4 linked regions of the Homo sapiens genome follow. The protein of the gene in region 1 interacts with the protein of each later gene in a pairwise test. Each region holds a gene or a part of one and is shown on either strand. Other genes may lie near its edges.

Region 1 (8,138 bases):
GGTATGTTTTGATTGACATCAAGTGGAGACGGGGCGGAAAAATACTGATTCTGTGAAAATACCCCCTTTCTCCATTAGTGGCATGCTCATTCAGCTCTTATCTTTATATTCCAGTAAGTTATTTTGCTCTCACTGTTTTAACAACAACAACAAAAAAACAACAACATAAAAATCCTTGCATACCTTGTTCAATTGGAGAATTTTAATGTTTTTCATTTATCATTGTAAAACCAAGGACAATTTTATAACTTTTTTGTACTTAGCTGTTACATGCAGAGCAATCTGTCTTTAAGTAGGGATAAATTACTCTAAAACAAAAAAGAATCCTAGATAGTTTTCCCTTCAAGTCAAGCGTCTTGTTGTTTAAATAAACTTCTTGTTTAAAAAAAAAAAAAGTAAAAAAGAAAAGTTATGCAACAATTAATGGCCCAGAGGCAATCCTTGTTAACATTTTGATGCATCTTTTAGCTGTTTTTTTTTGTTTTTTTTTTTTGACTGAGTTTGACTCTTGTCACCCAGGCTGAAGTGCAATGGCATGGCATGATCTTGGCTCACTGCAACCTCCGCCTCCCGGGTTCAAGTGATTCTCCTGCCTCAGCCTCCTGAGTAGCTAGGATTACGGGCATGCACCACCATGCCTGGCTAATTTTGTATTTTTAGTAGAGTTGGGGCTTCTCCACGCTGGTCAGGCTGGTCTCGAACTCCCAACCTCAGGTGATAAGGGAAGGGGCACTATTGACATTTATGGTTGGGGCAGAGGTGTAAGATATTCTTCAAAGCACTACCTACATGTTGAAGAATTGTTCCTCACCCAGATTCTCAAAAGTCCCCCAGGACATTCACGTAGTGAAAACCTGTGTTTAATTATCTGAGCCTATAACTTAATACAGTTTTAAAATTTTTTTTTAAATATACAGTGAACTTTCTAGGAATGCAATTATAGTTGTGTGTAAAATTAGGGAAAATTAACTTTGCTACCAAGAGTTGTTCAACATTTTGTTAAATCACTTCATTGATGGCAACATGCTGGAGGTAGTTGAGTCACCAACTCAGCACCTGGATCAGCCTGTGTTGGTAGCAGTTTCATCCCCGTGGTTCTGTGAATAGGTGGAAGCATCTGCTTACTCCATCAGGACTTCTAGGGTAGTCGGGCCTTGGCACTCACACATTAAAATACTGTTTATGTTATTTTATTGCAAGTTACTTTTCTTTCATTTCCCCTTTACGTTACAGAAAGGGAAGCATTTTGCTTTCTGTTTAAAGTTGTGTATGTAGGTAGGTTATATCATCTATGACTTTCTCTCCCTCCTTCCCTTTCTTTTTGTTTGAGATGGAGTCTTGCTCTGTCACCCAGGCTGGAGTGCAGTGGTGCGATCTTGGCTCACTGCAACCTCTGCCTCCCGGGTTCAAGCGATTCTGGTGTCTCAGCTGGGATTACAGGCGCACACCATCACACCACGCTAATTTTTCTATTTTTAGTAGAGATGGGGTTTCGCCATGCTGGCCAGGCCAGGCTGGTCTCAAACTCCTGAGCTCAAGTGATCAGTCCGCCTCGGCCTCCCAAAGTTCTGGGATTTCAGGCGTGAGCCTCATCTATGAATCTCAATTTAGGACAGTAAAAGTGTCATTACAAAATATTTATTGTAAAAAAGGGTTGGAGGTTGAGAATCTCAATTCTAGTCAGTCTCTCAGTGTTTGGTTTCTTCCTACCATTTTTCCCCCTAGGACCAGCCAGAAAGCAGCTTTTTTTTTGTCCCCCCCAACAAGGAGCCCACTGTTTCCTCTCCCAGCCCAAACTCAGGCCTACGAACAACAACAGCACAACACACACACACACACACACACACACACACACACACACACACACACACACCCCTCCACTTCAAGGTATAGCCAAGAGCTTCTGGAGCCGTCAAAAAGGTCTGTACCTGCTGTCTTTAGAGCTTCCAGTTTGCCCTTGGTCAAGAAATACTGTTTGCTAGGCTCTGCTGGAGTACATCAGGTAATACTGGCTTCTAAACCACCCTGAGGTTCTTTTCTCTTGTCCTTTTACTCCCTTCGTACTTCAATTTCTCTCCTTGATGTCCCCCTCCCTGTTTTGTTTTTTGCCTCCAATCCGTTCTGCGCGTTCCCTGCAGAGCAGGCGAGTAGCAATGCTGCTGGACCATGGAGCTGCTCTAGTCTCCCAGAAATCTCTTCTACACCCAACCCTTCTTGCGCTTAGGTGGTCCTCAGTCCCCCTCCCCCACCTCCTTCTGACCCAGGCTTCTTTCTCGCCCTCCGGTCGCAGTTCTCCTGGGCATCTGCCTCTGCCTCTCTCCTCTCACCCGGATCTAGGGCTGCCTTCTCTTTGTGCAGCCGTCTTTCTCCACCTTCATCCCAGACTCCCTGTCTCAGCGCCAGCTCCTCTGCCTTTGGCTCGGGTTCCCTCTCCCCCACCCCAGCTTCCAGTTGTTTGGCCCGCAGGTCCCTCGGCAGTGACCGGCGCCCCCCGACGAGTGCGTGTGCACCAGGGCACCTCCCTCTCCCCCACCTCTCAGCCCCGCGCCTCTCCACCGCCCGCCCCACCGCGCTGTGGGCGGTCCAGGGCGGGGCTGGGATCCGGGGCGGCTCCCGGGGCTCGGGTTGTGGGAGGCGCCCTCTCCCCGGTCTTCCCCTCTCTTCCCCCCGCCCTGCCTTCCCTTGCACCCTCCTTCTTCCCTCCGCCCGGGAGCTCTCCCTGGTCCCCGGCGCCGCCTCCTTCCCTCCCGGCTCCCCGCTCCCCGCTCCCGTGGCTGCCGCCGCCCCGGGGAAGAAGAGACAGGGGTGGGGTTTGGGGGAAGCGAGAGAGGAGGGGAGAGACCCTGGCCAGGCTGGAGCCTGGATTCGAGGGGAGGAGGGACGGGAGGAGGAGAAAGGTGGAGGAGAAGGGAGGGGGGAGCGGGGAGGAGCGGCCGGGCCTGGGGCCTTGAGGCCCGGGGAGAGCCGGGGAGCCGGGCCCGCGCGCCGAGGTAAGAGCCAGGGCCCCGGGTTAGCAGGGCTCGGAGAGGGGGCGCGCGGCGTGGTGGGGGAGGGGGCAGTGGGCGCAGGGCCCAGCTGGGGGAAGCGGGGCTGGGGGAGAGGAGGAACCGCGGGGATGGAATCGGGGAGCGCTGAGGCGGCCGATGCCGGGAGCGTGGGTAAGCCAGGCTTCTGCGAGCCGCGGGGGCCGGGGGAGAGGAGGTGGTGAGAGGTGGAGTCCCGGGAGGGTTGGGGGCCGAGGGAGGCAGGAGGAGGGTGGGGACAGGCTTTCTCTCCTCCTCTCCCCCCACCCCGCGCGGGGCTCCGCCCCCGCCTCCTCCGCGGGGCGCTCTCTTGGTCCCCAGGCTGAGCCCGGTCGGAGCCTGCGAGGCAACCGGCAAGAGGTCGAGTAGTCTCCGGGTGCGGGCCGCGCCGGCGGGGCTCGGTCCAGTCCTCATGGCCGCCTCTCACTTAGATGTTGCTGCTGCTGCTACTGGCGCCACTCTTCCTCCGCCCCCCGGGCGCGGGCGGGGCGCAGACCCCCAACGCCACCTCAGAAGGTGCATCCTTCTTCGACGACCTCCGGCCCTCCTTCGCTCCACTTCCCTTTCCCTGCATCTCCTCATTTCTGGTCCTCATCACTATCCCATCAGTCCCACATATCATCCCGGTCTGGCAACCCCTTCTGCTCGGCCCGACTTTACTACTGCTGACCTCCTTCTGTCACCCCACGTTACTATCCAGCACCTCTTTTCTCTGCCCACATTGCTACACTATACCACCTTCCTGTGCATTTTCTCCGCCTCAATCCCCTTTCCCAGCCCCACATTACTACCTCAATTACTCCCTTTTCTTGGTCCCACTTTGCTGTCCAGATGATCTTATTAGCCTCCCTTTATCCTCCTATCCTAATTCAACTCGAATATCCTCATTTAGCCTTTTTTTTTAAAGAAAAGCTCCACCCACATATCATACCCTTCATGATTTCTTAATTACTTTTCTTTCTTACCTCCACCCAGCACCCTTCCCTCCCCACTTGTGGGTTCTCTCATCAGCTTTAACCCTGGCCCTTTACTCTCTGTCCTTTAGCCAGGGGATCTGTACCTGTCCCCACTCCCACCCTCTAGTGCCCCATCCCTCTTCCTCTGTCCCCAGCCTGCCCACAGACCACGCCCTACTCTCCCCTTCCTCCCACTGGGGAGCCTGCCTTTTCCTCTTTCCCACCATTCCTCTCTGTATGCCTCCCCGACTCACCCCTTAGGTTGCCAGATCATACACCCGCCCTGGGAAGGGGGCATCAGGTACCGGGGCCTGACTCGGGACCAGGTGAAGGCTATCAACTTCCTGCCAGTGGACTATGAGATTGAGTATGTGTGCCGGGGGGAGCGCGAGGTGGTGGGGCCCAAGGTCCGCAAGTGCCTGGCCAACGGCTCCTGGACAGATATGGACACACCCAGCCGCTGTGGTGAGTAGCCTCGGAAGCCCCTCCCCTCTTCAAGACTATTCCTTTTCCTGCCGCAAACTTAGCATTACTGCTTGCAAGTCAGCACTTTAAATCCAGTATACCAAAATTCACAAATACATTTATTGAATGACTACTACATAAGAGCAATTTTGCTCTGTGCGGTTGGAGGTAGTAGAGCTAGCAGCCTGCACAGTTCATTTCATCCTCCCTTCATTAGGCCACTGATCATTGGCCTATAACATTGATAATTCATCTTGTCAGTTATTCTCTTTGAGGATCATTAGTGGCAGATGATGACAAAAAAATTCTAAAATGATTTCATCACATTTTTGAATACCTCTGTCACCAACCCAGAGACCATATGCCCAAGAAACAAAAGCCAGTTTAATATTAATAGAAGCCAACTATAATAAGAAAAGCAAATCTGATTGTGCATCCAAAGTTATATACATCTACATATTTCAAAGCCAGAGAACCGCCCACTGTAGCTGACTTTGAAGAGATCCCATTTTGTGTGCTTATAGCCCCATCTTGGGTTCCTAAAATGGTAATTTTTTTTTTCTTTTGGGAATGTGTGGATGCTTGCACAGGTAAGGGAGGATTGGAAGATAGGTAGGCAAATCCTTTTCACATGTGATTTTCTTTAGAGCAGGATGCTTGTGGACCCAAACCTGCACCTGAGTCCCCTGCTCTTTAAAGGGAAAGAGCCTTCTTCAACTCGCCTCTCTTCTTATTTTCCTATCTCTCCACAGTCCGAATCTGCTCCAAGTCTTATTTGACCCTGGAAAATGGGAAGGTTTTCCTGACGGGTGGGGACCTCCCAGCTCTGGACGGAGCCCGGGTGGATTTCCGGTGTGACCCCGACTTCCATCTGGTGGGCAGCTCCCGGAGCATCTGTAGTCAGGGCCAGTGGAGCACCCCCAAGCCCCACTGCCAGGGTGAGGGGAACAGCTGCCTGCATGCAGCTGATGAGGACGCTTGTGTGAGGATGGGAGTGGGGTGGGAATGGATAATGGGAAAGAATGGAGAGCTATAAAAATGTGGGGGAGGACACTGGAAAGGGGAGATGAAAGTCCCTTTTTCCTCCATCACCTGCCTCAAACTTCCTCTTGCAGTCCCCGGTATCCTCTGTAGGTTGGGGGCTTCCTTCCTTTACCTTTTAAAAAAATCTTCCTGCTCCCGATTCTTAGACCTCACGTTTTCTCTTTTCCTTTATGAATCTCACCTCTCTCACCTTCTTCAGGTTTAAATACTCCAATTTTCCCTTTCTCTAAACTTAGAAATTTCCATGCATCACCCTCTTCTAGAATTCATCCCTCACCATTCCTTATATAATTGATTTATTGTAAAGACTCAGAAATAAATCAAACATTCTACTAAGAAAAATTGAGAAGGGGAGCTCTGGGGGTGGAAACATATTAGGGTAAAAGACTTAAAATTGGAGGCAGCATTATCAGAAGATGAAGAACAACTCAGGGATGGGGTGGGAAGAAGACAGGTCCTTTTCTGTACTTCCTAGACAACCTCCATTATTCCCTAAGGGAATCAGTGTTGTGTCTGTCTACTTTTTTTTTTTTTTTTTTGCCACGTAATTTTACAAACTCTCCCTTTTCTAGGCACCCGAACTCTCTGCCATCTTCTCTCCTGGGATGCAGTCATCCCATTTGTATGCCTCATACTTCCTCTACCCTGGTAGATTCTTTCAAGATCCTTGGGCTTTACTTTCCTCACATAACTCAGTTATTCTGCTTCTAGTTTACCATTTTATTCTGGAAATTGAGAGTCCCATCCAGGGGTGGACTTATGACACTACTGAAACTTAGACTTCAAGGTTCCTCACCTACAGGGCCCTCTTCCTGTGCTCTAATAATATAGAGGGCTCGATGGATATGTGTTCATATGGTAACAGGCTTTTGTAAAAATTGCAGAAATAAGATTTTAACAGCAATTGCTTAAAGCCAATTGTATGTGTAATTTTTTTTCTTAAAGACTCCCAATTTTGTAATATTCAGGCACCACAGAACCAAGATCTGCCCCAAACTTAGCTATTGGCATTCCCGTCTCAAATTCTGTTGTCCTATGAAAAATCGAAGAAGAAAATAAGTCCTGACCCCCTTACCCCCAGACCCACCTTGTTCTTATCCCCAGGCACCCTCCCCTCAGAAACGCAGGCTTCTGCTCTCCCCGGTCTTCAGCATGGACAGGTGTGGGAGGGGGCTGGGGATCAGGCCAGGGAAGCTGGGCGCCAGTGGTAACTCTTCTCTGATCCCCGTCTTTCCTGCTGCCAGTGAATCGAACGCCACACTCAGGTGAGATGAGAAACCCTTACCGCGCGCACTGCAATGCCCTCCCCTTCACTCTGCACCCTCCACCCCCCTGAAATTCTGCCCTTAGGCTACGGGGCGTCGTCCTTTCGCACCTTCCCCAACCCACCCCAGTTTGCGGCCACCCCCTTCCCTCCCTACCTGTTTCCTGCCTCCAGTCCCGGTTTTCCACGAGGCTGCGGTCTCTCCTTGTCCCTGCTTGGCTACACTTCCCTGGGCTCCACCTCCTCCCAGACTGAGCCTCGCCGGTGTCAGGCAGAGCCCAGCAGAGGGCGGCAGGGTGCTGGGAGACCCTGAGCTCCCACCACGTTTTCCCCTGTGGGGTTCCTTGCGACCTTCGCTGGAACCTTTTCCAGCCTGCTGCCTCCTAGGATTTCACCTAATGGACTTTCTCAGCCTGTCCCACCCATCCCAACCCTGGCCAGGCCTCTCGCGCTCTTCCCCACATCTTTTCCTTCCGTGTACCCCTTCCCTCGTCTTTTCTCAATTCCATGTCCTGTCTCCCTTTCTTAGGCTTCTGTCTACCCAGCCCCAGGCTCCCTTCCACGACCCCACCACTCCCTCAAACCAGCCTCCCTTCCGTACCCAACTCGTTCCCTCCAAAACCGTTTCCTCTCCCCCACATCCTCAGTGCTTCACTGTATCGACTCATACTCCCACTTCAGACCTCAGGCGCCAGCCCCGTTTCTCTCCCGTCCCACTCGCATCCTTCCCTTCCTACCCTGGTTCCTCCGTGCTTCAGCCTCCCGCGGCTCCCTCCGCCCACCCCGCCCTCCTGGCACGCCCCGTCCCCATTTCTCCTCCCCTCGGGTCCCCTTAAGTGAGATCCCTCCCTTCCTCTTTCGTTCCTTTCCTCCTCGAGGTTGCATCCCCCCTCCCCTCCCCGCCCCTCCGACTGTCGCTCCCACCTCGGCGCTCGCTTCCCTCCCCGCCCCCTTCCTGCCTCCCCAGCTCCCGCCCGCCCCCCCACCCCCCGCTGCCGCGCGCCGCCCGTGACGTCAGAGCCCCCTCCCAGCCCCACATCTCCCTCCTGCTCCTCCTCCTCCCCTCCGTCGGTCAGTCAGTCCGCGAGGAGAGTCCGCGGTGGCGGCGACGGTGGCGAGAGCCGCGGGGGCCGTAGGAAGCCAACCTTCCCTGCTTCTCCGGGGCCCTCGCCCCCTCCTCCCCACAAAATCAGGGATGGAGGCGCCTCCCCGGCACCCTCTTAGCAGCCCTCCCCAGGAAAAGTGTCCCCCCTGAGCTCCTAACGCTCCCCAACAGCTACCCCTGCCCCCCACGCCATGGGGCCCGGGGCCCCTTTTGCCCGGGTGGGGTGGCCACTGCCGCTTCTGGTTGTGATGGCGGCAGGGGTGGCTCCGGTGTGGGCCTCC
Region 2 (8,198 bases), on another chromosome or scaffold:
ACTGCGCCCAACCCTCATGAAAGCTTTATTCCCATTTTACACACGAAGATCCTAATGCCTTGTCAAAATGTGACCAGCCACACTAACATCACCTGGGAGCTTGTTAGACGTGCAGAATCTCAAGGCTCAGAACTGCTAAGTCATAATCTGCTGCTTAACAGGAGTCCCAGGTGATTTGGGTACACATTAAAGTAGCACTGGACTAAAACTCAGAAAGGTTTAGTGGCTTTCCCAGGTTTCCAGAGCAATGTGGTAGCCCAGTTGGGACAAGGCTCTGGAGACTCCAAGAAATGCTTTTCTTAATGCTTCACTCCCGGCTGGAAGGCACACCCATTCTTTAAGGCCAGCTCCCTGATCTCCTCCACATTCTTACCCTGAAGACCCAGGAAGAATCAAGAGTCCCTTTTGCTCCTGAAGCCCTTCATGTATTCCTCTGTCACAGTAATGAATGCATTTGGCCTTGTAACAAGATGGAGAAGAAAAGAGGGAATAAAACAGTATTTCACAAACCCCTCTTCTATGCAGAGGAACAGGGTAAATATTATCAGGAGTGAAGAAGAGAAGTATCTTGACATTCTACGTTTACCCTTAACTTGTGAGCATTTTTCCTGGGCAGAGGCGAACTCTTCCTAGTTTCCCCTTAAGAGTTTTTCATGTGGCCCAGGTACTGAACATAAGATAGACTTGGAGAGGCCATTGGTTCTGGAGGACTCACACTACTTTGGCCTCATATTTTTTTTTTCTCCCCAACTTCATAATGATAAACTCAGGCTTCCTTTGTGTACCACTTTTGGCAATGCAGGTGCTTTTTGCAAGTCAATGGGAGAGAATTACAAGTGTGGCTTATTAAATTGATCTCCAATTTAATCAATAAATCATTCACAACATGAAAATGTGTTTGCTTTGAATTAGTGCTTGATAGCAATTTTCTATTTCCTAAAAACTTGTAATTGAAATGACAGCGTGCCTTTATTAAAGAGAATTTTAAGAATAAAAAGAAATAACCTAATATAAGATTGTTTTAATTTCTGCCTATTTCATTCTGGATGTACCCACACTCATCCATGCTTCGCAAAGAGACAGTCATAGTATACATGCCACCTTAATCATAAAGATTTCTCTGGGTTTCTACATGGTTTTCACAGTGATACTTTTTCCTTTCATTATTCATCATTCTTCAGAGAACCATCACCTCCTGGGACTCCTGTGATGAAAGTGCCATGATTGCTAAGCTCCTTAAGTGAGGAAATCATAAATTTCATTTTTTTATCCCTTCTAATGGCAAAAGCAGTTCTGAGAATATGCTAGGCACTTCAGTGCTTGTAGCCTTGGAAAAAGGTGGTGAGCATGTTTGTAGAAGATAAATTCTGGGAATAAAGCACCACCAAAAGGCTAAGAGATTTAGCCGGGCATGGTGGCATGCACCTGTAGTCCCAGCCAATCTGGAGGCTGAGGCAGGAGAGTCTCTTGAACCTGGGAGGTGGAGGCTGCAGTGAGTTGAGATCATGCTGCTACAGTCCAGCCTGGGCCACAGAGGAAGACTCTGTCTCAAAAAAAAAAAAAAAAAGAAAGGCCGGGCACAGTGGTTCATGCCTGTAATCCCAGCACTTTGGGAGGCTGAGGCGGGTGGATCACCTGAGGTCATGAGTTAGAGACCAGCCTGGCCAACATGGTAAAACCCCGTTTCTACTAAAAATACCAAAAATTAGCCAGGTGTAGTGGCGGGCGCCTATAATCCCAGCTACTAGGGAGGCTGAGACAGGAGAATCACTTGAACCCAGGAGGCAGAGGTTGCAGTGAGCTAAGATTGCACCATTGTACTCCAGCCTGGGCAACAAGAGCAAAACTCCGTCTCAAACAAAACAAAACAAACCACTAAGAGATCTAATCAATTATTCTGGCACACAAGGTAATATGAATTTCCTGAAAATGCAACTAAAAATACGTTATTAACCACATTTCTCCATATTCAACCCTTCAAATCAAAATTATGATGATACCTTTTTTTGTATTCTGACAATTGTCATGATTACTCTTATGAAGGAAATAAATAGTAGTAAAAAAGAAAATCTGTTTCTTGTTACTCTTTTTTGTAATCCATATGGGAAATTAAATTATATAGACAGCAAAACTGGCTTTACTATTAATAACACACGAGCTTTTCTTAAACTCTGGCTTTGTCTAACACTTTTCGTTAAGCAAATGCATTTTTACCCTACAAATCACTGAGGGACTGACATATAGTTGAAAACTATAGAAAATACAGAAAGACTTCCTCTAGTCTTATCCACAACTCTTCATAATGTTATTGCACGAGAATTTTGAATGTGGTGCAGTAAGAAAAGCACCCTCAGCTGTGCCTCGGAAGACCTGAGTTCTGGCTCTGGCTCTACCACCAAATTACTGTGTGATTTTGGGTGAGCCACTTTGCCTCTCTGGACTTAAATATTACTACTTTGAAAGAAAGAGAGGGAGAGAGACATCAGCTGTATGACCTGAGGCCATTTTCTGCCCTAATACTCTATGACAAATATCTGTGATAGTAGTAATTTCTACATTTACACTTAGGGTTTATTTAAATACAGTTTTTTCTTTCTCTTTATTTTGGAGGAAAGGAGGTCAAATATGCTGCTAGTCTCTTTTTCCCTCTGAAGTGAAATACAGTCTTTTGAACCTTTGGAGGGACCCAGTAGAATTGAATTTAGATGGGATGTCCCCAATGGATCTGATCCAGCATTTTCAGAACCCATTGAATGTGCAGCAGAAGGTAGACTTGGAGAGGCCATTGGCTCTGGAGGGGTCACACTACTTTGGTTTTGTAGTTTGGTTTCTGCTGCCTTCCCATAGAATGCCTGAATCCCTGATGTAGGCCCAAAGGTGAGGAACCAAGGCTTGTCAGTTAACTATGTCACAGTTTGTCTGTCTTCCGAGTCAGGATGTTGTGGGTTGAATAATGGTCAACCAAAGAGATGAAGTCTTAATTCCTAGAACTTGTAAATGTTACTTTACTTGGGAGAAGAGCTTCTGCAGATGTGATTAAGTCAAGGATTTTGAGATGGGGAGATTATCATGGATTACCTGGACGGATCCTAAATCCAATCATGAGTGTTCTCATAAATCAGAGGTGGGTGAGATCTGATGCAGACACACAGTGGAGAAGGAGATGTGAAGATGGTGGAGATTAAAGTGATGTGGCCACAAGCCCCAGGTTTGCTGGGGCAGCCACCAAGAGCCAGAAGTGGCAAGGAACAATTCGCCCTTCAAGCACCCAGAAGGAGGCAGCCCTGCTGGATTATAGCCATCTGGCCTCCAGAACTGGGGGAGAATACACGTCTGCTGCTCTAAGCCACTAAGTTGGTGGTAATTTGTTACAGCAGCCACAGGAAACAAATACACAGGTGACAGCAGGCAAGTGTCCAGTCCTGCAGGGGCCCACACCAGCCCTCAGATCTGGCTCAGGAAACACAAAAAGAGGAGCATCCTTCCATTCTGGCTGTTCAGTCCTTTCCTCCAACTCTTCACCAGACTCCACATCTCCACCTTGCCTCATTCTCTCTGTTCAACTATTTATTAAGAAGTTGCTGTGCACTAAGCACTGTGCCAAGTATGGAGGAGCAGCTGATAAAAGAATCCTCAGGAACTGAAGATAGAGACTGTTTGGGGTTTAGATCAGCTTGCACTAGAAACTGGGCTTGGGGGGAATTCCACCTTAGTCCCTCAGGCCTTGCTTAACTGGGCTTTGGAGGGGAAGGTGGCTTCCCCCACACCTGCCCTCACTGATGAGGCGGTCCCATAGTTCCCACCATCATGACATGGACTAGTAATACCTGAGGGCCCTGAGTTCTCCATCGGCTCACCATTGATCTTTGCTTATCACATACAAAACTCTCATAAAGGAACTGGGTTTTCCCCAAACTGCGTCAAAACATGAATGATGGTGAGGGGAATTTGCCGAGGTATGAATTCAGGTACCAGCAGATATTTCCTTTTATTTTTTCTTTAGAGACAGGTCAGTGGCTCAATCATAGCTCACCTCAAACTGCTGGACTCAAGTGATCCTCCCACTTTAGCTTCCCAAGTAGCTGGGACTACAAGTGCATGCCACCATGCCTGGCTAATTTTATTTAAAAAATTTGTACAGATGATGCATTAGTCCGTTGTCACACTGCTATAAAGAAAGACCAAGATTGGATAATTTATAAAGGAAAGAGGTTAAATTGACTCACAGTTCTGCATTGCTGGGGAGGCCTCAAGAAACTTATAATCATGGTGGAAGGCAAAGGAGAAGCAGGCACATTTTTCACAGGTCGGCAGGATGGAGTGAGTGCAAGCAGGGAAAATGCCAGGTGTTTATAAAACCATCAGATCAGATCTCTTGAGACTCACTCACTATCATGAGAACAGCATGGGGGAAACTGCCCCCATGATCCAATTAACTCCACCTGGTCCCGCCCTTGACACATGGGGATTATGAGGATTATAATTCAAGATGAGATTTGGGTAGGGACACAGAGCCAAACCGTATGAGATGGGGTCTTGCTATGTTGACCAGTCTGGTCTTGAACTCCTAGGCTCAAGCAATCCTCCTGCCTCAGCCTCCCAAAATGCTGGAATTACAGATGTGAGCCACCGTACCTGGCATCCAGCAGATATTTCTACTGCATTTCTCCAGGAATGAGTGGGTTGGAGATGAGGAGATTCTGGAACTTCTGTCATTTCCTCCCAACAATTCTGGGACTCATGTTCACTCTCCTGGGATAGGGGAAACTGACTTAAAGTGATTTTCAAATGGCATTCCTGTTGAAAGAGTTAATATATGTACATGCATACAACATACACACACATTTGTGTATGCTACATACCATGGAGGAAAGCCAGTCCTGGTATAAATTGTATAACTTCAAAATAATAATGGAATTATGATTTCATTTTAATACTGATTTCAATTAAAAATTTTAATAGACTATTTTTTAGAGGTTTTAAGTTTACAGAAAATCTAGGTAGACAACACAGAAAATTCCCATTAACCCCTGTATTAGTCTGCTAGGACTTCCATAACAAAATACTACAGGCTGAGTAGCTTAAACAACAGAAATTTGTTTTCCCACAGTTCTGGAGGCTAGAAGACCAAGGTGCCCACAAGTCTGGTTTCTGGTGATGCCTATTTACCTTACTTGCAGATGGCTGCCTTCTCCCTGTGTCCTCACATGGCCTTTCCTCTGAGCACCTGGAGGCAAGAGAGTGAGCTCTGGTGTGTATTCCTCTACCTAGGAGACACCAGTCCTATTGAATTAGGGCCTCAGCCTTACGATCTCATTTAACCCTCATTGCCTCCCTTTAGGTGACTAGGTGTGAGGGTGGAGCCCTCAAGAGACTGCCTTCTCTCCATCTGCTGTTTGTAGTGGGAGGATACCTCCAGAGAGGCTGCTGCTCATTGAGCTGCACTCACATGAGGATACAGACTTTGTGAAGAAGGAATTGGCAACACTGAAACCTCCAGAACAAAGGCTGTCACTAAGGTATGTGCTACAAGCATCCTTGGGGAAGAAGGGCATGAGTAGGCAGGGGCATTTTTATATCTTTAGAGGATAGGCAAAGGGAAGACCAAAATTTCAGAGGTCTAGCACAAGAAGTAAAATTTTTTTTTAAATCTTTGCATTTCCTCAGAGCCCACAAACATGCATGTGTCTTAGTGGCTGCCCATGCTCTGGCTGAGGAGAGCAAACCGTGCCATATTCTCTGCAGGCCTTTAGGAGAGAGTGAAAACTCCTACAAGAGTGGGAAGGTAGATAAGAGAAGATCCTTTATAATACCAGGCATCTGGGAAGATCTGTCCTTGTGCTGGGTACAGGGCTTCTATCAGGTAACTGAAGGACACCTGGGTGCTGTTCTTAAGGAAAGAAGCCAGCGAGCAAACTTTCATATGACTAAAGAAGTTGCTGGTGGGTGCCTGTAGTCCCAGCTACTCAAGAGCCTGGGGCAGAAGGATTGCTTGCGCCCAGAAGTCAGGGCTTTGTGTGAGATCACACCTGCGTATAACTACTGTACTCCAGCTTGGGCAACATAGTGAGACCCTGTCTCTAAAAAAATAAATAAATTGCTTGCTTGCTTGCTTGTGCTTTCAAATCATAGAAAAGTAGCAGAGTGGAGAGGGGTGTCTGAATGTAAAGCAAACAAATGCCTTGGAAAAATATGTCTGGATTGAAATTGCATTGAATGTATATATCAATTTGAGAAGAATTGTCAAGTTTTATAATTTTTATGTAACTGAATTGCATTTTTATTAGTTTTATTCCTAGTAATGCTAGTAATTTTCATTGCTAGTATAATTGGGATCATTTTTCTATTGCATTTATAAAGTTATTTTTTTTCTGGTGCTTAGGAAAGCAATTAAAAGAATAAACTGATGAATATCATGCAGATATATCTCTAAAACAATAAGCAAAATACAAAGGGAAAAACAATATATCATTTATGTAAGTTAAAACAATATATCATTTATGTAAGTTAAAACACACAAAAATATATATTGTTTATGGATATATATAAATATGTAAAAGTACAGGGGGAAATTGTTTGGAATGATACATACCAAATTGGTTTTAGTTGTTGTTTCTGTTATGGGGATAAGTTGTGTAGTTAAAGGGAACATTAGCTTCATCTCTATTGCATCAGAAATAAAAAAAGAAAGAGGGATGGAAGGAAGAGAGGGAATGAGGGAGGGAGAAAAGAAGGGAGAAAAAAAGAAGGAAGGAAGGAAAAAAAAATAACCCAAAGCATTGTGAGAATATGTTAGCAGCTGCTAATTCTAGGTGATGGAACTATGGGTATTTACATTTTCTTTGTAAGTTTTGGCTTTTCTCATCTCAGCTGACTCCCTTTGGTTTACATAACAAAATACAATAGACTGAGTGGCTTAAACAACAGAAAGTGTTGTTTAACATACTTCTAAAGGCTGGAAGTCCAAGACCAAGCTGCCAATGCAGTTGATTTCTGGTGAGGCTTCTCTACCTGGCTTGCTGATTTCAGCCTTCTTGCTGTGTCCTCACATGGTCTTTACTCCATGCACAAGGGGAGCAAAATTTCTTGTGTCTCTTTCTCTTCTGTTAAGGACACTAGTTCTATCAGATTAGGGCCCTGCCTTTTTTGGTTTTGTTTCTGTTTTCTTTTTTTTGAGACAGAGTCTCACTCTGTCACCCAGGCTGGAGTACAGTGGCTTGATCTCGAGTCATTGCAACCCCTGCTTCCTGGGTTCAAGAAATTGTCGTGCCTCAGCCTCCCGAGGTAGCTTGGATTACAGGCATGTGGCACCATGCCTGGCTAATTTTTGTAATTTTAGTAGAGACGGGGTTTTGCACTGTTGGCCAGGCTTGTCTCGAACTCCTGGCCTCAAGCAATCCGCCTACCTTGGCCTCCCAAAGTGCTGGGATTACAGGTGTGAGTCACTGTGAGAGCCAGGGCCCTGCCTTTATAACCTCATTTAACCTTTTTTTTTTTTTTTTAATTTTAATTTTTTTTTTTTTTTTTGAGACAGAATCTCACTCTGTCGCCCAGGATGGAGTGCAGTGGTGTGATCTCGGCTCACAGCAACCTCCACCTCTTCGGTTCAAGTGATTCTTCTGCCTCAGCCTCCTGAGTAGCTAGGATTACAGGCATGCACCCGCCATGCCCGGCTAATTTTTGTATTTTTAGTAGAGACGGGGTTTCGCCATGTTGGCAAGGCTGGTCTTGAACCCCTGACCTCAGGTGATCTGCCCACCTTGGCCTCCCAAAGTGCTAGGATTACAGGCATGAGCCACAGCTCCCGGTCTATCATTTAACCTTAATTACATCTTTAAAGGCCCAAATAGTCTCACCCACTCCAAATAGTCACACCCACACCGGAGGTTGAGCACTTCAACACATGAATTTGGGGAGGACACAGTTCAGTCCATAACATCCCCCTAATTTTTAAAAAATAAAAATGTTTTTAAGGAGTGAATGTCTTTTATGTGTCTCTGTGACCAGGTCCCGCTGCCTTGATGGATTATACACTTGACCTCAGTGTGACAACAGTGACCGACTACTACTACCCTGATATCTTCTCAAGCCCCTGTGATGCGGAACTTATTCAGACAAATGGCAAGTTGCTCCTTGCTGTCTTTTATTGCCTCCTGTTTGTATTCAGTCTTCTGGGAAACAGCCTGGTCATCCTGGTC
Region 3 (7,002 bases), on another chromosome or scaffold:
CCTGGCTTTGTCATTCATCGCGTGGGGACAGGTGCAGCAGAAGAGAGCAGACAGAAGCACAGGATCTCAATCAGGCTCTTGAATCAGACTGCCTGGGTTTGAATCCAGGCCCTACTGACCAGCTGTGTGACCTCAGACAGGCGACTCCGGGTCTCAGCACTCAATTTTCTAATTGGCCAACTGGAGATGACAATGGCCCCTACCTTGAATGGCTGCCAGGAAGATTAAATGAGAAAATACTTAAATGTGAAACACTTAGAATGGCGCCTGGAACACAGACCATTAATACCATCTAACAGATGTTAGTTGTTATCCTTATTTATTACTCATGCTTTCCTTTCTCTTTTTTCTTTTCTCTCTCTCTCTCTCCTTTTTTTTTTTTTTTTTTTTGTTGTTGTTGTTGTTGTTGAGACAGGGTCTCAGTCCGTCGGCCCAGACTGAAGTGCAGTGGCACAATCATAGCTCGCTGCAGCCTCGACCTTCCAGGCTTAAACGATTCTCCCACCTCAGCCTCTCGAGTTGCTGGGACCACAGGTATGCACCACCATGCCCAGCTAATTTTTGTATTTTTTGTAAAGACAGGATTTCACCATGTTGCCCAGGCTGGTCTTGAACTCCTGGGTTCATCTGATCCATCTGCCTTGGCCTCCCAAAGTACTGAGATTACAGGTGTGAACCACCACACCCGGCCAATACTCATGTTTTTCAAGCCTGTAAGAGGAACCTCCTAGCACTGTCCCCACCCCGGCCACCACACTGGTCCCAGCCCCAACAGGTCAGCTTCCTTTGCTGTTCCCGGGCTTCCCTCAGCTCTATCTCAAGCCATGACCTCTGCCTCCATGTCTGCAGCCCCATGAGGCTGGGGCTGCTCTGTCCTGCATATCTCCAGTGCCTGGCAAGGGGCTGGCAAGAGGTAGAGGCTCATTAAATGCCTGTTAAAACCCTAATAGTAATAATAATAATGGTACAGTTGTTACTAAGACTAATCACTACCTTCCAAAGTCTTTCCTCTATGCAAGGCACGGAGCTAAGCACCCTGTAGATCCTGACAACAGCCCTCCCGTGATCCCACAAGAGAGACACGATTCTCTCCAATGTTTAAAAAGGAAAGTAAAAGTCAATGGTTCTAAGTAGCTCACACTGAGTGATTGTACCGGGATTTGGACTCAGGCACCATCCCTTAAACCAGAGGTCAGCAAACTTTTCCCCCTCAGGAACAGATGGTAAATATCTTCAGCTTTGCAAGCCAGACAGTCTCTGTTACAAGCGCTCGACTCCCCCTTGTAGCATGAACACAGCTGTAGATAATACGTCCAGGAATGGGTGTGGCTCTGTGCCAATAAAACTTTATTGTCCAAAAACAGGTGACAGGTTGGTTTGGCTCATAGGCTGTAGTCTGCCACTTCCTGTTTTATTCTACCTTCTGTTCATTTCAGGTCACTGTGCATGGCATCATCCTGGCCCCCTCTAGAGCTCCAATCCTCCAACCAGAGCCAGCTCTTCCCTCAAAATGCTACGGCCTGTGACAATGCTCCAGAAGCCTGGGACCTGCTGCACAGAGTGCTGCCAACATTTATCATCTCCATCTGTTTCTTCGGCCTCCTAGGGAACCTTTTTGTCCTGTTGGTCTTCCTCCTGCCCCGGCGGCAACTGAACGTGGCAGAAATCTACCTGGCCAACCTGGCAGCCTCTGATCTGGTGTTTGTCTTGGGCTTGCCCTTCTGGGCAGAGAATATCTGGAACCAGTTTAACTGGCCTTTCGGAGCCCTCCTCTGCCGTGTCATCAACGGGGTCATCAAGGCCAATTTGTTCATCAGCATCTTCCTGGTGGTGGCCATCAGCCAGGACCGCTACCGCGTGCTGGTGCACCCTATGGCCAGCCGGAGGCAGCAGCGGCGGAGGCAGGCCCGGGTCACCTGCGTGCTCATCTGGGTTGTGGGGGGCCTCTTGAGCATCCCCACATTCCTGCTGCGATCCATCCAAGCCGTCCCAGATCTGAACATCACCGCCTGCATCCTGCTCCTCCCCCATGAGGCCTGGCACTTTGCAAGGATTGTGGAGTTAAATATTCTGGGTTTCCTCCTACCACTGGCTGCGATCGTCTTCTTCAACTACCACATCCTGGCCTCCCTGCGAACGCGGGAGGAGGTCAGCAGGACAAGGTGCGGGGGCCGCAAGGATAGCAAGACCACAGCGCTGATCCTCACGCTCGTGGTTGCCTTCCTGGTCTGCTGGGCCCCTTACCACTTCTTTGCCTTCCTGGAATTCTTATTCCAGGTGCAAGCAGTCCGAGGCTGCTTTTGGGAGGACTTCATTGACCTGGGCCTGCAATTGGCCAACTTCTTTGCCTTCACTAACAGCTCCCTGAATCCAGTAATTTATGTCTTTGTGGGCCGGCTCTTCAGGACCAAGGTCTGGGAACTTTATAAACAATGCACCCCTAAAAGTCTTGCTCCAATATCTTCATCCCATAGGAAAGAAATCTTCCAACTTTTCTGGCGGAATTAAAACAGCATTGAACCAAGAAGCTTGGCTTTCTTATCAATTCTTTGTGACATAATAAATGCTATTGTGATAGGCTAAATGATTACTCCCGTAGATTGGGGGGTACCTAATCCCTGGACTTGATGAATGTTACCAAATTAAGGGTCTTGAGATGGGGAGATGATCCTGAATTATCCAAGTGGGCCCTATATAATCACAAGGGTCCTTATAGGAGGGAGGCAGGAGGCTCAGAGTCAGGAGATGTGACTATGGAAGCAGAGGCCAGAGGAATTCAGGACGGCCACTACGAGCCAAGGATTGCAGGCACCCTCTAGAGGCTGTAAAGGGCAAGGAAATGGCTTCTCCCCTGGAGCCTCCAGAAGGAATGGGTCCTGCCAACTCCCTGTCTTCAGCCCAGGGAAACAGATTTAGGATTTCTGGCCTCCAGAACTGTTAGAGGATACATTTGTGTTTTGTTTTGCTTTGTTTGCTTTGCTTTGCTTTGCTTTTTTGAGATGGGGTCTCGCTCTGTCACCCAGGCTGGAGTGCACTGGCACAATCACGGCTCACTGCAGCCTCAACTTCCCAGACTCAAGGGATCCTCCCACCTCAGCCTCCTGTAGCTGAGACTACAGGTGTGCACCACCATGCCTGGCTAACTTTTCTATTTTTTGTAGAGATGGTGTCTTCCTGCATTGCCTAGGCTGGTCTCAAACTCAAGGGCTCAAGTGATCCTCCACTTTGGTCTCCCATAGTGCTAGGATTATAGGCGTGGCCACTGCGCCTGGCCCCATTTGTATTTTAAGCCACCGAGTTTCTGGTAATTTGTCATAGCAGCAGCAGGAAACAAATAACAAGTATCGGGTAATGGCCTCTCTTATTACACTTCCATTTGTCTATTCAAAGCTTTCTAGGCTAACTGCCAGGAATACAGGGATGGTATAGCTAGAAGTTCTATATTCAAGGAACTTACATACATCTAAATATTATAATATAAAAAATGAAATGAGAAATTGCATGAACACACCACGGATCCAGCATCTTGCGCCTTCAGCGAGAAAGGGGATGGGTTCCCTCTCAGGTTAGCAGAGAAGACGCTGTGAAGGGAGTCAGCCGTGAGCCTGGTTTCCACAAAGGGTGCAATCTGGATACGTGGAGACAGGGAGGAAGGGCTGGCAGAGGCGGGAAAGGGTGAGCTGCTCACAAAAGAATGCTTGTGCATGCTCTTATTGAACGTGTAATGCATTGGTGCGGGTCTTGCTATGAGAGACCCAACGGTGAGCCTAACGGTGTCTCTACCCTCCAGGGGCTCACAGCAACCAGGACAATAATTAAGGGATTGTCATAGAGCAGGATGCCCGCCACCATCAGGGTGAGGGGTGCCGTGAGAACCAGAGCAGGGCTCCAGTCTGGGTGGCTGGGAGGGATGGTTAGAGAGGGGTTCCTGGAGGAAGAGACACATAAACTGAATCCCAAAAAATGAGAAGCTGGCCAAGCAAAATGGGGGAAAGGAGTGTTCCAGACAGAAGGAACAAAGTAGGCCCAGAGGCAGGTGGGGTTACAGGTTAGGAGGGAGAGGTTGAAGGATGGCAGAGGAGGAGGCGGGTCATGGAGAGAATTGGGGCTGGAGGAGAATGGACAGGCTGGGTCCACCATGGTCAGCTGGCAAAGACAGTTCACCCAGGAAGGATGGTGGGCTCCAGGCAGCTTTGAGGGCCCCATTGAAGCTGGAAAGCGTGGCTGTGTTGTGTGAATTTACTCTGATAATGCTCGACAGACCCAGGAAAGGATTGCTCTGGAGTAGGGTTTAGCCAGATAGACGGCCATACGTCATGGGAGTTGGGGATCCTGGTCAGACTCGGGGGAATGATGGAGAGGGAAGAAACGAGCACAGGGAGAGAAGGAAGTGAAGTGAGATCAGTGTGTTAAAGGATGGATATAGTGAGAGAACCTGGGTGACAGCAAGAAACAGAAGAAGAGCCAGGCGTGATCTTCTGTACACTGTGAAGGGAATCAGCCGTGAGCCTGGTTTCCACAAAGGGTGCAATCTGTAATCCCAGCACTTTGGGAGGCTGAGACAGGTGGATGGCTTGAGCCCGGGAGTTTGAGACCAGCCTGGGCAACATAGCAAGACCCCGTCTCTACAAAAAATACAAAAATTATCCAGGCGTGGTAGTGCGCACCTGTAGTCCCAGCTACTTGGGAGGCTGAGGCAAGAGGATCATCTGAGCCCAGGAGGTCAGGGCTACAAGCAGTGAGCCAAGATTGTGCCACTGCATTCCAGCCTGGCTGACAGAGTGAGACCCTGTCTCATTAAAAGAGAGAGAGGAAGGCATAGCCACAGAGCAGGAATGTTTGAGTAGAACATTCCAGAGGCAGAGCCATCTCAGGAGATGACAAGGACCAAGTGTATCCCTGGCACCAGGTGGCTGAAGTAGAGGGAAGAAGAAGGAGGTTGGAGACAACATAGAGAATGGAGAGGTCAGGTGGTGGGTGGGCCCTACCTGGGCCCTCACAGGCAGGCGGGACATTGTCAGGCCCTGGGGAGGAGAGAGTCCGTGGGCCAGGAGGCCATTCCAAGGTCAGTTTCCATGGAGTGGGGGAGAGGGTGTAGTGACTGGACTCCAAGACACTTGGGGGAATGGGGAGAATGGCAGTCCCCACAGCTGCACGGGAAGGGCTGGTCCTCACAGAATAGCAGCAAAGACTCATTCATTCCAGGAATGGAAAGAATGCCATGTTCTTGGAGCCTGGAGACAGGGTTTGAGAGGCTGGCAGCGGCTGGGCCACCAGGACCTCATCAGTGATAACCCTGTGATCAGTGTTCCAGCCCCTGCAGGTTTCCTGGAGAGCAGAGTGTCGTCAGAAGGCCTGGAGCTGAGCCAACAGGCAAGATCCAGCCTGCACATGTGTTTAATTTGAACCACATGGTATTTTTTAAAACTCCAAGCCCCCAGGCTCTTGAGTTGGTTACCAGTACTGAAACTCCCCATTGGGAGCCAGCTTTCCAGTTTCTTTTGAAAGTTTGGAACATCCAGCAACACTGATTCAATTTCATTCATTCAGCAGATATTTATTAAGCATCTACTTTGTCAGACACTGTTTTGGGCACTGAAAATATGGCAGTGAACAAAAGAGAGGAACATCCCTGGGCCCTTGGAGTTGACCTTCCAGGGTCCCCCCGGGGCTCCAATTCTTTGGTGCTGTGTAGCAGAGGCCCCGTGAACAGGGCGCCCTCCCATCAGGTTCACACGCATGGAAGCTATGGGAGGTTAAGTTTGCAACCCCTCATCCAGACCATCCCTTCACATACAGTCTAGGAAACAGAGAGCAGTAAGACCTGCCCAAGCACACCCAGTGCGACTCAGCAGCCACACACAGGAGTAGGCTCAGTCATCTCATTTAATCGCCTGACTCCCTTGTGAGGTCTGTTTCAGGATGTCCACTTTCTAGGTGAGGAAGAGGAGGCTAAGGAAGGCAGTGCCTGCTCAGACTGCAGAGGCTGGATTCACCCAACTCATCTGACTCCAACACCAATGTGATTTCCAAGCCCCCAGGCAGGAATTCATTGGGCAAAGGCTCTGTGGCAAAGTGGCAAAAGTAGGCAGGAACAGGCAGGAATAGAGAGTGGGAAAGGGAAAATAATACCTGATTCCTCTTCTATTCCGAGTGAGCTGACCCACATATGCCCTCCTTTCTTCTTTTTCAGCCGGCCTTAAGCAGGTGGCTTATCAAAATCCTTTCGAGGTCTTGCAAAAACCAATCCCACACTCGAGAAGAACGTGCTGGCCGGTGAAATCGGACAACATTGCTCACGGGATGTAATTCAATGGTAGACTGCAGCCACAGCCTGAGAACTCAGACACCTGATTTATGAGACGCACATAAGTAACGTTTACCGAAGCCCAGCAAATGGCCCCACAGTGGGAGAGAAACTGGCAAACCCGTACAGTAGAATTCTGTTGCCCTTCTGTGGGGAAGGCCAGTTATTCATTTACAGAGGGAGAAATTTCTGCCTTGACTAAAAGGATCGATGCTGTGGGAAAAGGTAATATATCTGAGTTCCCATGGATCTGGTTGATAGGTTCACCTGGCGTGTTCCATATGGGGCCAGGCCCAGGCCACACCTGTGGTGCTAACACCTGGGGTGGAGGGAGGAATTAGCAAATAGTCTTCCAGCATCCCCAGCTCCAGCACCCATGTGGGCTTCCACTCTCTCCCTGAGAAGGGCCAAGTAGAAAGAGAGAACAAGGTTTCACTCCAATCCGTTCCCAGCTCTGGGTCTGTCCTGGGCTCCAGAACCGCGTGATCAGGGGCCATATGTGGCCTTCACTGCTCTCTGCAGTGGGAAGGTAAGAAAACTGCCCCCACCCTGCCCCATCATCACCCCAATCCATCATGGGGAGTGGGTGGCACTAAGGCCCTCCAAATCCCAGCCTCGGGGAAACTCCCTGATGTTGCAATGGCCACAGGCAGGCTCTTGCTCTCCGGAGATGAGTCACAAATTTGATGAGGAGC
Region 4 (7,475 bases), on another chromosome or scaffold:
AAAAAATACAATATAAAAAATACAAAAATTAGCCGGGTGTGGTGGTGCATGCCTGTAATCCCAGCTACTTGGAAGGCTGAGGAGGGAGGATTGCCTGAGCCTGGGAGGCAGAGGTTACAATGTGCTGAGATTGCACCACTGCACTCCAGCCTTGGCAACAAAGCCAGAGCCCATCTCAAAAAAAAAAAAAAAAAAAAAAAAGACCTGTAATCCCAGCACTTTGGGAAGCCAAGACAGGCGAATCACTTGAGGTCAGGAGCTTGAGACCTACCTGGCCAACATGGTGAAACCCCGTCTCTACTGAAAATACAAAAATTATCCAGGCATGGTGGCAGGCGCCTGTAGTCCCAGCTACTCAGGAAGCTGAGACAGGAGTTTCACCTGAGAGAGGAGGATCACCTGAGGCTGGGAGGCGGAGGTTGCAGTGAGCCGATACCGCGTCACTGCACTCCAGCCTGGGCGACAGACCAGGTCTCAAAAAAAAAAAGAAAAGAAAACATGCCAGATTTGAATAGCCACCTGAATGCTGAAGTTTTACCAGCTCTCTTGGGCTGTGTACCCTTCATCGTATCTTCCAGGTTCCTTAAAACCTACCCTTGGGCACAGCTGGGATGTGCACTGGCTCTTCACAGCTAGATCCAGCATGCACTGACTCTCCCCGTGCAGGGACAGCCCCAGAGGAATAGAGGTGGCGTTCCGGCCGCTCCAGCGTGGCCCACAGCGTTTCAAGTGCAGCAAGCACAGACAGGACGCGGGGTTACTAGTATTTTGGATTGACTGCAGATTTTGAACTGTCTGCCTAGATGAACTATACCATGTCCCTAGGGCCAAGTCCCATGTGCATTTTGTGGCTACTAGACCCTCTTCAGAAATCAAACACAAAATAGCTCTGGCCTGTAAAGAAAACAAACTTCACCAGTAAAATTGTTTCCTGTTCCTATCCACCAATGTGCATAGCACAGTGTGTAGTCTGGGTAATACGGTTTGCATAATTTTTTGATAATGTTCTACTTAAAAAGGGCAGCGTATTTATATATTACTTATGTAATTAAAAAAAAAATTCTTCTGGCCGGGTGTGGTGGCTTACGCCTGTAATCCCAGCACTTTGGGAGGCCGGGTGGTTGGATCGCCTGAGGTCGGGAGTTCAAGACCAGCCTGGCCAACATGGCAAAACCCCATCTCTACTAAAAATATAAAAATTAGCCAAGTGTGGTTGCGGGCGCCTGTAATCCCAGCTACTCGGGAGGCTGAGGCATGAGAATCTCTTGAACCCAGGAGGTGGAGGTTGCAGTGAGCCAATATCCTGCCACTGCACTCCAGCCTGGGTGACAGCACAAGACTCTGTCTCAAAAAGAAAATAAAAATAATAAAAAATAAAAATTCTTCTATCTGTATGCCTAAGTGTATGCATACTAACAAAATAAGTATAGTTACTGCTTATTGAGCAGCTACTAAATGTGAGGCAGTGTGCCAGGTACATTCTGTAAGTGGTAAGATGGTGCTCCTCTCCACGTTGGCTGAGCACGGGGCGCTGGAGATGATGGCGTGAGTGGGTGCCGGCTGGGGGCCGGCCCACAGGCTGTCTCTTTCCTTCTGTTCGTATATGAGGTGGTTTGTCCCCAAAACTATTCTGTTTTCTTTCAGCTGCTGTAAGCCAGTTTCTTGTGTTTTTTTTTTTCAAATAATAACACTTACATTTGAATACTGTAAGCTAGATATGTATTATGCTGTAATATGATAAACTAAGTCTTTATTAAGATATAGGTTATTCACACCTGTAATCCTTATTCACACCTGTAATCCTTATTCACACCTGTAATTCCAGCACTTGGGGAGGCCGAGGTGGGTGGATTGTTTGGGCTCAAGAGTTTGAGACCAGCCTGGGTAAAATGGCAAGACCCTGTCTCTACCAAAAATACAAAAAACAATTTAGCTGGGCATGGTGGTGCACACCTGTAGTCCCAGATACTCAGGAGGCAGAGGTGGAAGGATCGCTTTAGCCCAGGAGGCAGAGGTTGCAGTGAATGAAGATCTCGCCACTGCATTCCAGCCTGGGTGAAGAGTGAGACCCTGTCTCAAAAAAAAGATAGAGGTGATTAGAAAGTCTGCCTGTTTTTCTGCCAAGGTCATTCCTGTCGTTATGACTCTGGCTTCTTGCTCGTGGAGATAGCGCTCTCCCTACAAGTCACTGTGCTGTATCCTTCCCGTTATCACACCTCTTGTAAAATAGTTCACACGCAGCACCATCTCCACCCGTTGGAAGCTATGCATCCCTCCACTGGAGCATCTGTGCTTTACACAGACTTCTGTTTTTTTTTGTTTGTTTGTTTTGTTTTACTTTGTTTTTTTGAGACGGAATTTTGATCTTACTGCCCAGGCTGGAGTGCAATGGCGCGAACTTCGTTCGCTGCAACTCCGCCTCCTGGGTTCAAGCAGTTCTCCTGCCTCAGCCTCCCAAGTAGCTGGGTTACAGGCATGTGCCACCACACCCGGCCAATTTTGTATTTTTAGTAGAAATGGGGTTTCACTGTGTTGGTCAGGCTGGTCTCGAACTCCTGACCTCAGATGATCCACCCACCTTGGCCTCCTGAAGTTCTGGGATTACAGGCATGAGCCACCGCGCCTGGCATTTTTTTTTTTTTTTTAAGAAATGAGGTCAGGCCGGGCGCGGTGGCTCACGCCTGTAATCCCAGCACTTTGGGAGGCCGAGGTGGGTGGATCACGAGGTCAGGAGATCGAGACCATCCTGGCTAACACGGTGAAACCCTGTCTCTACTAAAAATACAAAAAATTAGCCGGGCGTGGTGGCGGGCACCTGTAGTCCCAGCTACTCAGGAGGCTGAGGCAGGAGAATGGCGTGAACCAGGGAGGCAGAGCTTGCAGTGAGCCAAGATCACGCCACTGCACTCCAGCCTGGGTGACAGAGTGAGACTCTGTCTCAAAAAAGAAAAAGAAAACAAAAGAAATGAGGTCTTGGCCAGGCACAGTGGCTCATGCCTTTAATCCCAGCACTTTGGGAGGCTGAGGCAGGTGGATCATGAGGTCAGGAGATCGAGACCATCCTGGCTAACACGGTGAAACCCTGTCTCTACTAAAAATACAAAAAAATTAGCTGGGTATGGTGGCGGGTGCCTGTAGTCCCAGCTACTTGGGAGGCTGAGGCAGGAGAATGGCGTCAACCCAGGAGGCGGAGCTTGCAGTGAGCCACTGCACTCCAGCCTGGGCAACAGAGCAAGAGTCCGTCTCAAAAAAAAAAATGAGGTCTTGCTCTGTTGTGCAGGTTGGGAGAGTGATGTGGTCATGGCTCACTGTAGCCTCGAACTCCCGGGCTCAAGTGATCCACTCACCTCAGCCTCCTGAGTAGCTGGGACCATATGCTCGTACTGTCACGCCTAGTTAATTTTTTTTTCTTTTTTGTATTTTTTGTAGAGATGGTGCCTTGCTGTGTTGCCCAGGCTGGTCTAAAACTCCTGGGATCAAGTGATCCTCCCACCTTGGCCTCCCAAAGTATTGTGATTACAGGTGTGAGCCCCATGCCCAGCCTCAGACCTCTATTTTTTATTTTTATTTTTTTTTCCCCAGAGGGAGTTTCGCTCTTGTTGCCCAGGCTGGAGTGCAGTGGCACGATCTTGGCTCACTGCAACCTCCGCCTCCCGGGTTCAAGCAATTTTTCTGCCTCAGCCTCTTGAGTAGCTGGGACTACATGCACTCGCCACCACGCCTGTCTAATTTTTTTGTATTTTTAGTAGAGATGGGGTTTCACCATGTTGGCCAGGCTGGTCTCGACCTCCTGACCTCAGGTGATCCACTTGCTTCGGCCTCCCAACGTGCTGGGATTACGGGTGTGAGCCACCGCACCCGGCCCAAAGCTCTGTTGTAACAAGTTTATGACACAGTGTGTATCATATGACCACGGGTATGTGGGTTTGCCCTGCGTTAGACTCGGTGCTCGAGGGCTAAGCCTGGTCACAGACATCTCCGCATTTGTTTCTCTGCAAATGGGCTCCTTGCCCCCAGCTCCACCCCACGTAGAGATAGGCACAAATAGAGTTAAGATGTGAGTTGAGTGAGCACACACTCCTCGTAAGCCACTTGTCATTCCTAAACTACGACATCTCAGGCTGCCAGCTGCACTGGGCTCCAGTCAGTGACACCTTACAGGCATGGTTCTCTCCTGAGCTGGATGGATCAGCACCTATCTTGTTTGATTCCTCTCACAGGGTCTGGGGGTGGTGGCATCTCCCCTAAAGGAAGTGGTCCCTCTGTGGCAAGTGATGAAGTCTCCAGCTTTGCCTCAGCTCTCCCAGACAGAAAGACTGCGTCCTTTTCGTCGTTGGAACCCCAGGATCAGGAGGATTTGGAGCCCGTGAAGAAGAAAATGAGAGGAGGTTAGTGTCTGGTTGTGTGTGTCCTCAGTCCTCTCGTGTGCTCCTGGGGCATGCGGGGGCCGCTGCCATGCTCCGTGCTGTGGGGCATTGCTTCCTGCAGGGGCATGTGGACCCTGCCTCAGGTTGATGCCTGTAACACCTCCGGCATTTTCATTCAGAAAACCTGGGCCTGTTTTTTTGCGGTTTGCATAATCCAGATAGAACTGTGATTTGCTACAGGCTGTTCTCTTGGTCTGGAAATAGTGCATTCTGAATTGCAGAATTAATCTCAAAATCCTCCTTCCTGGCCAGGTGCAGTAGTTCATATCCGTAATCCTAACACTGGGAGGCCAAGGCAGGAGAATCACTTGAGGTCAGGCGTTCGAGACCAGCCTGGGCGACAGAGCAAGACTTTATCTCTAAAAATAAAAATCAAGCCTGACACCGTGGCTCCCGCCTATAATCTCAGCACTTTGGGAGGCCAAGGTGGACGGATCATCTGAGGTCAGGAGTTCAAGACCAGCCTGGCCAACATGGTGAAACTCCGTCTCTACTAAAAATGCAAAAATTAGCTGGGTGTGGTGGTGCATGCCTGTAATCCCAGCTACTTGGAAGGCTGAGGCAGGAGAATTGCTTGAACCCGGCAGGTGGAGGTTGCAGTGAGCCAAGACTGTGCCATTGCACTGCAGCCGGGGCAACAAGAACAAAACTCCATCTCAAAAAAAAGAAAATCAAAAAGAAAGCCCTCTGTCCTGGTAGGACAATAATTTCTAAAAATGTAGCTTAAATCTTCACATTGAAGATGATTTAGGGAGAAGTCTGCACTTTGAAAGCCAAAGTTAAGATTATTAGAAAACATTTGGGAATGTTATGGTAGAAGCATTGCTGTATAGCAGTCCAGAGAGCAGCCAGCCACTGGGGCACTGTGACAGGAAGGTTCTAGGAGGGGTCCCCAGGGAAAGAAATTAGGTTATCTGACACGTGGGGTTGATCGGTGTGGGGAAGGTGTGGAAAGAGTCAGCAACAGTTACACAGGAAAAATAAGCACAGGAATGAGGAAATTTTAATTCTAGCAAACATGAAAAATTGTGTAAGTCACACAACTTAATCTAGTAAACTACTTGGCTCAGCAGTGAATACTTGCATAAGCATAATAATACAAATACAGTATCATGAACTAATGTAATCTGTTAATGTAATGTTGGCAGGGGTGTCTCAGGACAGAGTTTTTCTCTACCTTAATAGATGTCAGGAATGATGTCTAAAATTGATAAATCAAATGTACCATGATAACTTAGAAACACAGAGGTAAATACCAGAAGAAACAGCTCAAAGACATGAAAATAGTTTTCCTCCGAGGAGGGAAATTGGGTGAGGAGCGGCTGAGACGGAGGGTGACTGCCTTTGTTTTCTTCTAAATATATTATGTATACATTTTTTTAAGAGACAGGATCTTGCTTTGTCACCTAGGCCAGAGCGCCGTGGTGCAGTCTTGGCTCACTGCAGCCTCCACCTCCTGGGCTCAGACTGTCCTCCCACCTCAGCCTTCCGAGTAGCTGAGACCACAGGTGCACGCTACCATAGCTGGCTAATTTTTTTTCCCATTTTTTTAGAGATGGGGTTTCATTATATTGCCCAGACTGGTCTTGAACTCCTGGGCTCAAGCGATCTGCCCACCTCAGCCTCCCAAAGTGCTGGGATTACAGTTGTGAGCCATTGCACCTGGCTTCTTCTAAATACTTGGCTTTTTAAATTGTGTACAGTTTCTTTAATTAAAAATAAAAATTAATTGATTACCAACATCTGAGCATTATAGAAAAATAAAAACACCAGAAGAGGGTGGGGCGCGGTAGCTCACACCTGTTACCCTAGTACTTTGGGAGGCCGAGGCGGGTGGATCACGAGGTCAGGAGATTGAGACCATCCTGGCTAACACGGTGAAACCCTGTCTCTACTAAAAATACACAAAATTAGCCGGGCGTGGTGGTGGGCACCTGTAGTCCCAGCTACTCAGGAGGCTGAGGAAGGAGAATGGCATGAACCCGGGAGGCGGAGCTTGCAGTGAGCCGAGATCGCGCCACTGCACTCCAGCCTGGGCGACAGAGCGAGACTCTGTCTCGAAAAAAAAAAGACTGCATGTATTTCCTTCTCGGTTACGACAGTTAGAACACATCCCTTTCTCCTGTGGACGGGGACCTTGACCTGAACCTGCGTGTATTTCCTTCTTGGTTACGACAGAACACATCCCTTTCTCCTGTAGATGGGGACCTTGACCTGAACGGGCAGTTGTTGGTCGCACAACCGCGTAGAAATGCCCAAACCGTCCACGAGGACGTCAGAGCAGCGGCTGGGAAGCCAGACAAGATGGAGGAGACGCTGACATGCATCATCTGCCAGGACCTGCTGCACGACTGCGTGAGGTGCGACCGTGTTCACCCTTGGCTCACGGAACATGGCACTGCAGGTTCTTCGTCCCGTGTGGGGCAGGGCTGGGCATGAGACAAGCCTGCAGGTCCTGTTTGGCCTGGCATCTGCTGAGGTTACTCTGTCACCCAGATAAGTGGGTGGAGTGGGTGGAGTGGGTGGAGCTTTCTCAGCCCACTGCAACCTCTCCCTCCCAGGATTGAGCGGTTCTCTGACCTCAGCCTTCTGAGTTGCTGGGACTACAGGTGCACACCACTATGCCTGGCTGACTTTTTTTTTTTTTTTAATGTTCTAAATATTTTTTATTCCTTTTTTTTTTTTTTTTTTTTTTTTTTTTTAGATGGAGTCTCGCTCTGTCACCAGGCTGGAGTGCAGTGGCACAGTCTTGGCTCACTACAACCTCAGCCTCCCGGGTTCAGACGATTCTCCTACCTCAGCTTCCTGAGCAGCTGGGACTGCAGGCGTGTGCCACCATGCCCGGCTAATTTTTTTGTATTTTTTAGTAGAGACAGGGTTTCACCATGTTGGCCAGGCTAGTCTTGAACTCCTGACTTCAGGTGATCTGCCCACGTTTGCCTCCTAAAGTGCTGGGATTATAGGCGTGAGCCACTACTCCCAGCCACCCTGCTGATTTTTGTGTTTTTTGTAGAGACGGTTTCGCCATGTAGCCCGGGGTGGTTTTTT

Evidence for each region.
Region 2: the proteins of GABBR1 (region 1) and CCR8 interact in a two-hybrid assay, tested with the Homo sapiens proteins (one large-scale study listed by BioGRID and IntAct).
Region 3: the proteins of GABBR1 (region 1) and BDKRB1 interact in a two-hybrid assay, tested with the Homo sapiens proteins (one large-scale study listed by BioGRID and IntAct).
Region 4: the proteins of GABBR1 (region 1) and CHFR interact in a two-hybrid assay, tested with the Homo sapiens proteins (one large-scale study listed by IntAct).

Annotation. Positions count from the first base shown.
Region 1 is NC_000006.12:29,627,702-29,635,839, reverse strand, and holds the start of GABBR1 (gamma-aminobutyric acid type B receptor subunit 1 isoform a precursor), read left to right. Parts: upstream 1-2,656; 5' UTR 2,657-2,990; intron 2,991-3,057; exon of another isoform or gene 3,058-3,143; coding exon of another isoform or gene 3,144-3,158; intron 3,159-3,454; coding exon 3,455-3,539; intron 3,540-4,238; exon of another isoform or gene 4,239-4,240; coding exon 4,241-4,444; intron 4,445-4,450; exon of another isoform or gene 4,451-5,196; coding exon 5,197-5,382; intron 5,383-6,732; coding exon 6,733-6,753; intron 6,754-7,826; exon of another isoform or gene 7,827-8,048; coding exon of another isoform or gene 8,049-8,138.
Region 2 is NC_000003.12:39,324,311-39,332,508, forward strand, and holds the start of CCR8 (C-C chemokine receptor type 8), read left to right. Parts: upstream 1-5,398; 5' UTR 5,399-5,519; intron 5,520-8,007; 5' UTR 8,008-8,021; coding exon 8,022-8,198.
Region 3 is NC_000014.9:96,262,237-96,269,238, forward strand, and holds the end of BDKRB1 (B1 bradykinin receptor), read left to right. Parts: exon of another isoform or gene 1-375; intron 376-415; 5' UTR 416-534; intron 535-1,436; 5' UTR 1,437-1,446; coding exon 1,447-2,508; 3' UTR 2,509-2,527; downstream 2,528-7,002. UniProt on the Homo sapiens protein: This is a receptor for bradykinin. Could be a factor in chronic pain and inflammation.
Region 4 is NC_000012.12:132,858,380-132,865,854, reverse strand, and holds part of CHFR (E3 ubiquitin-protein ligase CHFR), read left to right. Parts: intron 1-3,429; coding exon of another isoform or gene 3,430-3,522; intron 3,523-4,220; coding exon 4,221-4,388; intron 4,389-6,627; coding exon 6,628-6,787; intron 6,788-7,475. UniProt on the Homo sapiens protein: E3 ubiquitin-protein ligase that functions in the antephase checkpoint by actively delaying passage into mitosis in response to microtubule poisons.